Homo sapiens: one gene and its partners. The protein of the gene in region 1 purifies or fractionates together with the protein of each later gene. This does not show direct contact. Each region holds a gene or a part of one and is shown in the gene's direction. Other genes may lie near its edges. The genes, in order: UHMK1, INF2 and GPBP1L1.

Region 1 (3,651 bases):
TTTTTCTGATATCTGAATAGATCCGAAAACAATAGATATTTTGAAAATACAAATGTGTACAGTCGTGTCATTTAACAGTAGGGATCTGTTGTGAGAAATATGTCATTAGGTGATTTTGCCATGCTGACATCATATAGTACTTACATAAATGTAAATGATACAGACTTCTGCCCACACCTAGGCTATATTGCACAGTCTATTGCTCTTAGGCTACAACCTATATAGCGTGTTACTGTACCAAATACTATAGACAGTTGTAATACAATGGTAAGTATTGTGTCTAAACATAGAAAAGATACAGTAAAAATACAGTATAAAAGATTAAAAATGGTATACCTTATAGGGCACTTTACCATGAATAGAGCTTGCAGGACTGGAGTTGCTCTGGGTAATTCAGTGAGTGAGTGGTGAGTGAATGTGAGGGCCTAGGACATTACTGTACACTATAAGACTAAGGGTAAACACTGTATACTTTGCCTACACTAAATTTATTTTAAAATTTTTTCTCCTTTTTTTGAGACAGAGTCACACTCCATCACCCAAGCTGGAGTGCAGTGGCACAATCTTGGCTCACTGCAACCTCTGCCTCCCAGATTCAAGCGATTCTTGTGCCTCAGCCTCTTGAGTAGCTGGAATTACAGGTGCATGCCACCATGCCCGGCTAATTTTTGTATTTTTAGTAGAGACGGGGTTTCACCATGTTGGCTAGGTTGGTCTCGAACTCCTGACCTCAAGTGATCTGTCTGCCTCAGCCTCCCAAAGTGCTGGGATTACAGGTGTGTGCCACCGCTTCTGGCCAAAATTTTTTTTCTTCTATAATAAATTAGCTTAACTGTAACTTTTTTACTTTATAAACTTTAATTTTTCTTTATCTTATTTACTTTTAAAATTTTTTGTTAAAAACTGAGACACAAGCACACCTTAGCCTAGACCTACACAGGGTCAGGATCATCAATATCATTGTCTTCCACTTCCACATATTGTCTTACTGGAATGTCTGCAGGGGCAGTAACATGCATAGAGCTGTCATCTCCTATGTTAACAATGCCTTCTTTTGGAATACCTCACAAAGGACCTGCCTGAGACTATTTTACAGTCAACTTTTTGGGGGAGGGCGATGTACTTTAAAGTAGGAATAAAAAAATATATAGTTATAAATACATAAGCCAGTAACACAGCTATGTATTGTCATTATCAAGTACAGTAGTTTTGTTTACATCTATGTCCTACCGCAACACCTGCATTACCTGCATTACCACAAGCATGTGAGTGATGTGTTGCGATAGGACATTATGATAGCTACGATGTCGCTAGGCGATAGGAATTTTTCAGCTCAGTATTATTTTATGAGATCGCTGTCATATATGTGGTCCATTGTTGACCAAAACGTCATTGTGCAGTATATGACTGTATTATTAAATAGTAGGTTTTTCAGATTTCTAGACTATGGACTGGAAGTGAATAAAATAATTAGTATGCTAGAAAAGTATGGATCCCTTGTCTGAGTTAGAGTAGTATAGTTTCCTTTGAATATTGGCCCTATAAACCTTTAAGTTAGTTTTATTAACTCTTTACTTTGAAATAGTTACAGACTCACAGGACTTTGCAAAAATGTTACAGAGAGGTCCCTACCATTTACCCAGTTTCCCCCAGTGGTAACTTTTTACATAACTGTAGTATATACAGTATCAAAACCAGTAAATTGAAATAGGTATAATCCACATGATTTATTCCTATTTCACCAGTTTTACGCATACTTACTTGTGTGTGTTTTTCAAATTAGTTTTAAATAGCTGTTAGTATCTGATTGATATGAGATATTATAAATTGCATTTTACATTGAAGAGATGGGAATGAAAAATTATAAAATGGATTCTAGCCTGGAAGTTAAATTTTCATCTAAGTTCTAGTATTGACTTTCTTATTTTTATTTTTTTTAAATAATAGCCCCCCCCCCCCCACCATTTTACATAGAATACTAAATTTGGAAACTATAGAAAGTCATCATGAGGAAAATAAAAATTATAAACCCACATTCTAGTGTTAGCACTTTGGTATATTTCCTTCCACTATTTTTCTGCATATTGCATTATATATGCATGCAAGTCGCTGAACCTTTTTTGTTGCTGTTGTTGAATAAAGCACAGACACTAAAAACACTAATTAAACAAATGTGTAGCTTAATCTGTAGGAACATTGTACCCATCTTGTAACTACCATTCACACCAAGAAATAAAACTTTTCCTGTCACCCTGGAAGTCCTGTATGTGTCTCATCCCAATCTCATACATTTTTGTTTCCTTGAGTGTCCTATATATTACTGCATGTGTTTCTGTTGAAAGTTTGATGACTCAGTAATTGCCTTTTCATTAAAAGTCGCTTGGTCTTCCAGCCTGGCCAAGGTGGTGAAACCCCGTCTCTACTAAAAATACAAAAAAAGTAGCCGGGCCTGGTGGCACGTGCCTATAATCCTAGCTACTCAGGAGGCTGAGGCAGAGAATTGCTTGAACCTGGGAGGTGGAGGTTGCAGTGAGCTAAGATCGTGCCACTGCAATTCAGCCTGGGCTACAGAGGGAGACTCTGTCTCAAGAAAAAAAAAAGAGTCACTTGGTCTTCTTGTCTAGATGCCCAGAGGATTTTAACTTTTTCTTCCATGTATAGTAATTTTATCAAAATATATTTTGATTTTGATTGTTCTGGGTCAATATTCTCAGAAATACGGTATGTCTCTTAAATTACAGTTTTTAAATATTTTTTCTGTTCTTTTTGGTTTTCACTTTCATGTCCTCCTCGTCTACATACGTTTGATTTTCTTTGCCTTATATTCAATGTTGCCATTTTTTCCTTTCTTTTTTTTTTTTGAGACGGAGTTTTTGCTCGTTGCCCAGGTTGGAGTACAGTGGCATGATCTCGGCTCACTGCAACCTCTGTCCCCTGGGTTCAAGCAATTCTCCCACATCAGCCTCCCAAGTAGCTAGGATTACAGGCTACTGCCACCATGCCTGGCTAATTTCTATATTTTTAGTAGAGACAGGGTTTCACCATATTGGCCAGGCTGGTCTTGAACTCCTGATCTCGTGATCCGCCTGCCTTGGCCTCCGAAAGTGCTGGGATTACAGGCGTGAGCCACAACGCCCAGCTGCCATTTTATCTTGATTCTATATTATCTCTTTTTCCTTTCTTTTTTTAAGAGACGAGGTCCCACCATGTGCCAGGCTGGTCTTGAACTCAAGTGACCTTCCAGCCTCAGTTTCCCAAAATGCTGGGATTACAGGCATAAGCCACCACCCCCAACCCATTCTTTCTTTTTTTTTTTCTTTTTTTTTGTGATACGGAGTCTCACTCTGTCGCCCAGGCTGAAGTGCAGTGGCGTGATCTCGGCTCACTGCAAGCTCCGCCTCCCGGGTTCACGCCATTCTCCTACCTCAGCCTCCCGAGTAGCTGGGACTACAGGCACCCGCTACCACACCCAGCTAATTTTGTGTATTTTTAGTAGAGACAGGGTTTCACCATGTTAGTCAGGATGGTCTCGATCTCCTGAACTCGTGATCCGCCTGCTTCGGCCTCCCCAAATGTTGTGATTACAGGCATGAGCCACCGTGCCCCGCCTCTTTTTTATTTTTAAAAATATCCTCCTTTTTGCCTACTCTT
Region 2 (3,651 bases), on another chromosome or scaffold:
AGCCCAGCTGCACAGGCATGGGAAGGGGTGCATTGGCCCTGCTGAGCCTGCCCACTCCACCCTGGCAGCCCTGGACACATCCAACGTGATGGTGAAGAAGCAGGTGTTTGAGCTACTGGCTGCCCTGTGCATCTACTCTCCCGAGGGCCACGTGCTGACCCTGGACGCCCTGGACCACTACAAGGTGGGCGGCAGGGCCTGGGCCTGGGCACATGGGGCTCCCTGCCTGGGTGTGCCCTGACCCCGCCCTCCCCACAGACGGTGTGCAGCCAGCAGTACCGCTTCAGCATTGTCATGAACGAGCTCTCCGGCAGCGACAACGTGCCCTACGTGGTCACCCTGCTTAGCGTGATCAACGCCGTCATCTTGGGCCCCGAGGACCTGCGCGCGCGCACCCAGCTGCGGAACGAGTTTATCGGTAAGCACCTGCCCTGGGCCGCATGCCCGCTCCTGCCCGCCTCTTGGCCAGTGCATCCCATGCTGCATCCACCTGGGGAGGTGGGAGCGCCACAAAAGCTGCCCCCGACCCAGGGCCCCAGAGGAAGGCGCCATCTCGGGCCTGCCACCACCTGCCCCTTCAATGGACACAGGCCTCAGAACGCCTGGGGGTCAACCCTGGACCGTTCTCATTTGTGAGACTGGCCAGGCAGTGGAGCCGGACAGGGGGCCTGAGACCTCGTTCTAGCCCTGCCAGTTCTGGCAGTGAGCCCTGAGTAAGCATCACTGTGTGTCCAGCATGATGTCTCCCCTCCAGAGCCTCAGGTCTCTGGTGTCCCATGAGTGCAGCAGGGCAGGGTCAGGTGCTCTGGGTGGCAGAAGTGAAATGGGGAAGGCGGGGAGTGGCCTCCGAACCCTCTGACCCTGTCCGTCCCTTCCCAGGGCTGCAGCTGCTGGACGTCCTGGCTCGCCTGCGGTGAGTCCCCACTGTAGCGGTCCTGCCGGCTCCCCCTCCTGCTCCCAAGGCCAGGCCCACCTGCCCTTTGGCTCCCAGCCACCTCACCTAAGCAGCACCTCCAGATGGCAGGGAGGTGGCTCCCTCGGAGTAACCCCAGGGGTCCAGCCAGAAGCCAGGTCTCAGGCTAGAATCCAGCTCACTGTCCCTGGCAGCTGCCCACAGAAACTAGGGTTGCAGCAGCCATAGAAAGGACAGAATGAGCTCATATCCTTTGCACACCGTGGATGGAGCTGGAGGCCGTGATCCTAAGTGAACCAACCCAGAAACAGAAAATGAAATGCCAATAAGAGGGAACTACAGGGTGGTTCACGTGGACGCAAGATGGAGACAGGGACACGGGCTCCAGGGCGAGAGTTGAAAAACTACCTACAGGGTACAGTGTTCGTCGCTACTTGGTGTCAGGCCCACTAGAACAAGGGTCCCCAACCGCCAGGCTGCGGACCGGTACCTGGCCTATTGGAACCGGGCCACGCAGCAGGAAGTGAGCGGTGGGCGGGCATTCCTGCCTGAGCTGCACCTCATGTCAGATCAGCACTGCATTAGATTCTCCAGCGCACGCACGCGCGCAAGGGATCCAGGCTGCGCGCTCCTCATGACAATCTAATGCCTGATGATCGGGGGTGGAACAGTTTTATCCCTAAACCATTCCCGTCACCCCAGTCTATGGAAAAATTGTCTTCCACAAAACCAGTCCCTGGTGCCAAAAAGGCTGGGGACCACTGCCCTAGAAGGCAAATCGCCTACGTTACACAGTGTACCATGTGGCAAACACGCACATGTACCCCCGAGTCTAAAATAAAAATTTTTTAAAAAAGAAACTAGGGTTGCCAGGTACTGTATGGGACATGCAGTTCATTCAGGTTTCAGATACACAACAGACGATATTTTGGTGTAAGTATATCCCAGATGTTGCATGGGATATACTTATGCCAAAAGTTATTCATTGTTTGTCTGAAATTCAAATTGAACAGGTACTCTGTAGTTTCATTTGCTAAATCTTGCAGCCCTGCTGGGAACCCACATAGCTGAGAAGCTCTATCCAGGCCTCAGTCAGGACTGTACTCAGGGGGGTGTCCTTACACCCAGGGAAATCAGCTTGGAGGAGCCCAGGGCTAGAATGCCTGGTGTTGAAATGGCCTCAGGGGCCAGGCGCGGTGGCTCACGCCTGTAATTCCAGCACTTTGGGAGGCCAAGATGGGCAGATCACCTGAGGTCAGGAGTTCGAGACCAGCTTGGCCAACATGGTGAAACCCCATCTCTACTAAAAGTACAAAAATTAGCTGGCCGTGGTGGCATGTGCCTGCAATCCCAACTACTCAGGAGGCTGAGGCAGGACAATCATTGGATCCCAGGAGGTAGAAGTTGTAGTGAGCTGAGATCGTACCACTGCACTCCAGCATGGGTGACAGAGCGAGACTCCATCTCAAAAAAAAAAAACAGAAATGGCCTCAGCAAAGTTTGCCCACATGGGTGCCTGTGCCCCACCAGTGTGGGCTGAAGGGGGCCGGCCCTGCCTGCGGAGGGCTGTGCTCATTGACCAGACTGAGATGACTGGCAAGTCCTAGGCCCAGTGAACACTAAGTTTCCTCCTGCTCAGGCCAGAGCCCCGCCCCTCCTGTATCCATGCAGCCCTGTGGACCCACCTCAGGTGTGGTCTTCACTGTAGTCACGCAGCGCCCAGGGGAGGGCCTTCCCTCCCCCAAGGTCACGGCCCGGTTCCATTGTGTGCCACCTCCCCAGGCCTTGGTGCACGTTACTCGATGGGAGTGGGCATACTCGCCCTTCCCCTTCCCCAGGGGCGTGCGGGTGCCTGGTGACCCGGGGGCAGCCTGGCAGGGCGCAAGGCACTGACCTGGGAGCTGCCACTCTTAGGTCGCTATCCCTGGCTATGTGGGTCACATGTCAGCCACAGCTGGCTATGGCCTGGCTCAGAGTCCCAGGTGGGCTGAGCGGGGCTGGTACACTGGCGCTGACCCAGGCTGCCCCGCCTGCGTGTTGGTGGTGGCAGCAGCAGGCTTAGCCCACCTGGCCCCTCCTGCACAGAGACCTGGAGGATGCCGACCTGCTGATCCAGCTGGAGGCTTTCGAGGAGGCTAAGGCCGAGGACGAGGAGGAGCTGCTGCGAGTCTCTGGCGGGGTCGACATGAGCAGCCACCAGGAGGTCTTTGCCTCCCTGTTCCACAAGGTGGGCTGGGGGCTGCAGGGCGGAGGGCAGCCCTCCAGGGCAGGCTGTGGCCCTGAGGTCCAGAGGCTGGGCCTGGAACGGTCCTCCCTGCCCTGGTCAGACCCTGCTGTGACCTGGGCCATGGTGCCAGCTTTGGGGTGAGACTCCAGGGAGCAGCAAGGACCCAGGGGTTGGAAAGGGAGGTGGCGCCTAGAGCGGGCAGCCTGGGGGCCGGGCTGGGCCCTGGGGGCAAAGCCAGGGCCACAGGACCCAGAAGGACGGGGCTCCAAAGACCAGTGCGGCCCACAGCCGGCCTTACTGTCCTGGGCCCCAGCTGCCCAGTCCCCATCAGGTGGGCTTCAGAGGCCTCAGGGCTTGGTGAGGGGCTAAGAGGCTGAATTCTCGTCAAGCTCAGGCCTTCCCCTCATTCCCTGAACCTTGCAGCTCTCATCTGGGGGCAGTTGTGTCCCCAGGTGGCATCTGGCAACATCTGAAGACATTTTTGGCTGCCACGGCTGGGCAGGGGGTGCTG
Region 3 (3,651 bases), about 120 Mb from region 1:
AAAAAAGTTTTGGGATTCAATAAATTAGGAAAATGCTGCATAACTGCCTCTCAAATTCTTATGTGCAGTTAAGTGCTTTGAGAAATTGCACAGTGAAGAACCTTGTTGAACTTTTTTCACCCCGGCACCTCCCAAACTCATTGAACTATTGAACTAGAGCCCTGTTTTTGGGAAGTCACTATTAATGTCCAATGGCTCTTCTGTATCCCATCTACCATTTTCCTTGAAGTGCCTAACCTCCGAAAGAGGTTGCATACTTCCCAAACATGTTAAGACAGGTAAGCCCTGGAAACTTATGTTCTCATGTAACATTTCACTCTTTGCTTTATGATTTTATAAGCTGAGCTTCTGTTTGTGTGCTTGTTCTGACTGATTTGTTCTTTCACCCTGTGTAGCCTAATGCATGGAAAGCTAACAGGATGGAGCACAAGTCAGGATCCCTTTCCTCTAGCCGGGAGTCTGCTTTTACCAGTCCAATCTCTGTTACCAAACCAGTGGTACTGGCTAGTGGTGCAGCTCTGAGTTCTCCCAAAGAGGTGAGTGAGGATGAAGCAGGACAGTCTTTTCTGAAATTGCCATTTCCCGTTCACTTAGATAACAAGTGTAATATGTATAGCTGTGACACTTGTTTTGTAGCTATATTTAGCTGAGAATAGTTTCTTTATTGATGTTTTCTGTTAGCATCCAAAAGTGGGCAGTGGCTAAATGGGATAGATGCTCTGTGGTGGACCAAGGTCATCCTATGTTAGACTGGCATTCTGCTGATGTCTGTAGAAAGATCAAAGAGGTGCCATGTAAGCCAGCTGCTCTTAACTATATAAACCCTGCAAAACTGAAGTTTGAACTGCTTAAATAAAAGGATTGTTTGGTTTAAGACAGAGTGATAAATAGGCTACCAGATTCTTGAAGTCAGCACTTAGTAGAAGAGAACCCCAGTTCTTGCTCTTTGCTGTCAGGAGCAACCTGTTTGTGGTATTTGCCCAGAGTCCCTCCAGCACCACCCCTCCAATTGAGATCAGCTCCTCTCGTCTGACCAAGTTGACCCGCCGAACCACCGACAGGAAGAGTGAGTTCCTGAAAACTCTGAAGGATGACCGGAATGGAGACTTCTCAGAGAATAGAGACTGTGACAAGCTGGAAGATGTAAGAGCATCCGCCTTTTCTGGGGGTAGCCTAGGAATTTTCCTTTGATACATACGTGATTTCTTCTTCTTAAAGGATAAAGATGTGGCAAGATTTTTAAATGTACAGAGATACTGTCTGTAGGTGTAACTGCCTTCTAGACCACATAGTAAAGTGAGTTTAATCCTTTTTTCAGCAAAAATGTTAAATTCGGGTTTATTTTAGTAATCACTCACCTATTGAAGTACATCTTGGTTGCTTCCAAGTGTTGGCAACTATGAATAAAACTGCAGTAAACATCCATGTGCAGGTTTTTGTGCTGGCATAAGTTCAACTCCTTTGGGTAAATACCAAGGAGCGCAATTGCTGGATCATATGGTAAGAGCATGTTTAGCTTGTCAGGAAACCACCAAACTGTCTTCCAAAGTGGTTGTGCCATTTTGCATTCCCACCAGCAATAAATGAGAATTTCTGTTGCTACACCTCCTCACCAGTATTCGATATTATCAGTGTTCTGGATTTTGGCCCTCCTGATAGGTGTGTAGTTTTAATTTGCACTTCCATGATGACATATCATGTGGAGCATCCATCTATGTATCTTCTTTGTTGATGTGTTTGTTCAGGTCCCTTACCCATTTTTTAATGAGGTTGTCTGTTTTCTTATTGCTAAGTTTTAAGAGTTCTTAGAGTTCTTTGTATATCTTAGTTAATAGTCCTTTATTAGATGTGTCTTTGACTACAGTTTCTCCAAGTCTGTGATTTGACTCTTCATTCTTTCTTATTTATTTATTTTGAGACAGAGTCTGGCTCTTATCACCCAGACTGGAGTGCAGTGGCACGATCTGGGCTCATTGCAACCTCCGCTTCCCGGGTTCAAGCGATTCTCCTGCCTCAGCTTCCTGAGTAGCTGGGATTACAGGCACCCGCCACCACGCCCAGCTAATTTTTGTATTCTTAGTAGAGATGGAGTTTCGTCATGTTGGCCAGGCTGGTCTTGAACTCCTGGCCTCAAGTGTTCTGCCTGTCTCAGCCTCCCAAAGTGCTAGGATTAAAGGCATAAGCCACCACATGTGGCCATATTTATTTATTTGTATTACTTTATTTTTTGAGATGGAGTTTCACTCTGTTGCCCAGGCTGGAGTGCAATGGAGCAATCTCAGCTTACTGCAACCACCGCCTTCCAGGTTCAAGCAGTTCTCCTGCCTCAGCCTCCCAAGTAGCTGGGATTACAGGCATGTGCCACCACATGACACACGTTATTTAGCTTCTTAGCTCTGGCCAGAGGACCAGGAAACTACAGTGCAGAACAAGAGGCAGAGGAAGGCCAACCTGCTTCCTTGAAGACCAAGAGCTCAGACCATAACTCTGGAACACAGCCTTGTGGTTCTGATAAGGAATTAGACCTGTGAGGATGAAAGAGTATACTATTTTCTGGAATTTTTTTTGTATGTAGTAGAGACAAGGTTTCACCATGTTGGTCAGGCTGGTCTCGGATTCCAGACCTCAGGTAATCCACCCACCTCAGCCTCCCAAAATGCTGGGATTACAGGCATGAGCTGCCATGCCCAGCCGGCCATATTTGTTTTTGAGACAGTGTCTCACTCTGTCGCCCAGGCTGAATGCAGTGGCATTAATGATCACAGTTCACTGCAGCCTCGACCTCCCCTCCTCAAGCTATGCCTCAGCCTCAGCCTCCCGAGTAGCTGGGACTATAGGCTTGTGCCACCATGCCTGGCTAATATTTTGTTTGGTACAGAGATAGCTTCTTGCTATGTTGCTCAGGCTGGTGTTAAACTCCTAGACTCAAGCAGTCCTCCCACCTTTGGCCTCCGAAAGTGCTAGGATTACAGGTGTGAGCAACTACACTGTCTTTTAATTCTCTTGACAGAGTGTTTTGCAAAGCAGAAATTTTTTTTATTTTAATGAAATCCAGCCTAATTAATTGTAGGCCAGTCACGGTGGCTCAAACCTATAATCCCAACACTTTGGTTGGCTGAGGTGGGCGGATCACCTGAGGTCAGGAGTTTGAGACCAGCCTGGCCAACCTGGCGAAACCCCGTTCCTACTAAAAACAGAAAAATTAGCCGGGCATGGTAGCATGCACCCATAGTCACAGCTACATGGGAGGCTGAGGCATGAGAATCACTTGAACATGGGAGGCGGGGGTTGCAGTGAGCCGAGATCGCGCCACTGCACTCCAGCCTGAGCAACAGAGTGAGACTTGATCTCCAAAAATAAGTAAGTAAATAAACAAATAAATAAATAAATAAATGTCATACCCAAGGTAATCTAAGTTTTCTTTTATGTTATCCTTATAGGAGTTTTATAGTTTTGTGTTTTACATTTAGGTCTGTGACCCATTTTGACTTTATTTTTGTGACGGCTGTAAGGTCTTTGTTTAGATTGATTTTTTTTTTTTTAGTGTGGCTGTCCAATTGTTCCCTCACCATTTGTTGAAAAGACTATCTTTTCTCCATTGTATTTCCTTTGTCAAAGATCAGTTGTCTATTTGTGGGCTCTCTGTTCTGT

What was found.
Region 2: the proteins of UHMK1 (region 1) and INF2 purify together in Homo sapiens (affinity purification with mass spectrometry; one large-scale study listed by BioGRID and IntAct). This does not show direct contact.
Region 3: the proteins of UHMK1 (region 1) and GPBP1L1 purify together in Homo sapiens (affinity purification with mass spectrometry; one large-scale study listed by BioGRID and IntAct). This does not show direct contact.

What each region holds. Positions count from the first base shown.
Region 1 is NC_000001.11:162,504,277-162,507,927, forward strand, and holds part of UHMK1 (serine/threonine-protein kinase Kist), read left to right. Parts: intron 1-3,651. UniProt on the Homo sapiens protein: Upon serum stimulation, phosphorylates CDKN1B/p27Kip1, thus controlling CDKN1B subcellular location and cell cycle progression in G1 phase. May be involved in trafficking and/or processing of RNA.
Region 2 is NC_000014.9:104,703,037-104,706,687, forward strand, and holds part of INF2 (inverted formin-2), read left to right. Parts: intron 1-68; coding exon 69-184; intron 185-258; coding exon 259-418; intron 419-879; coding exon 880-913; coding exon of another isoform or gene 914-917; exon of another isoform or gene 918-1,773; intron 1,774-2,998; coding exon 2,999-3,140; intron 3,141-3,651.
Region 3 is NC_000001.11:45,630,981-45,634,631, reverse strand, and holds part of GPBP1L1 (vasculin-like protein 1), read left to right. Parts: intron 1-395; coding exon 396-536; intron 537-956; coding exon of another isoform or gene 957-984; coding exon 985-1,143; intron 1,144-3,651. UniProt on the Homo sapiens protein: Possible transcription factor.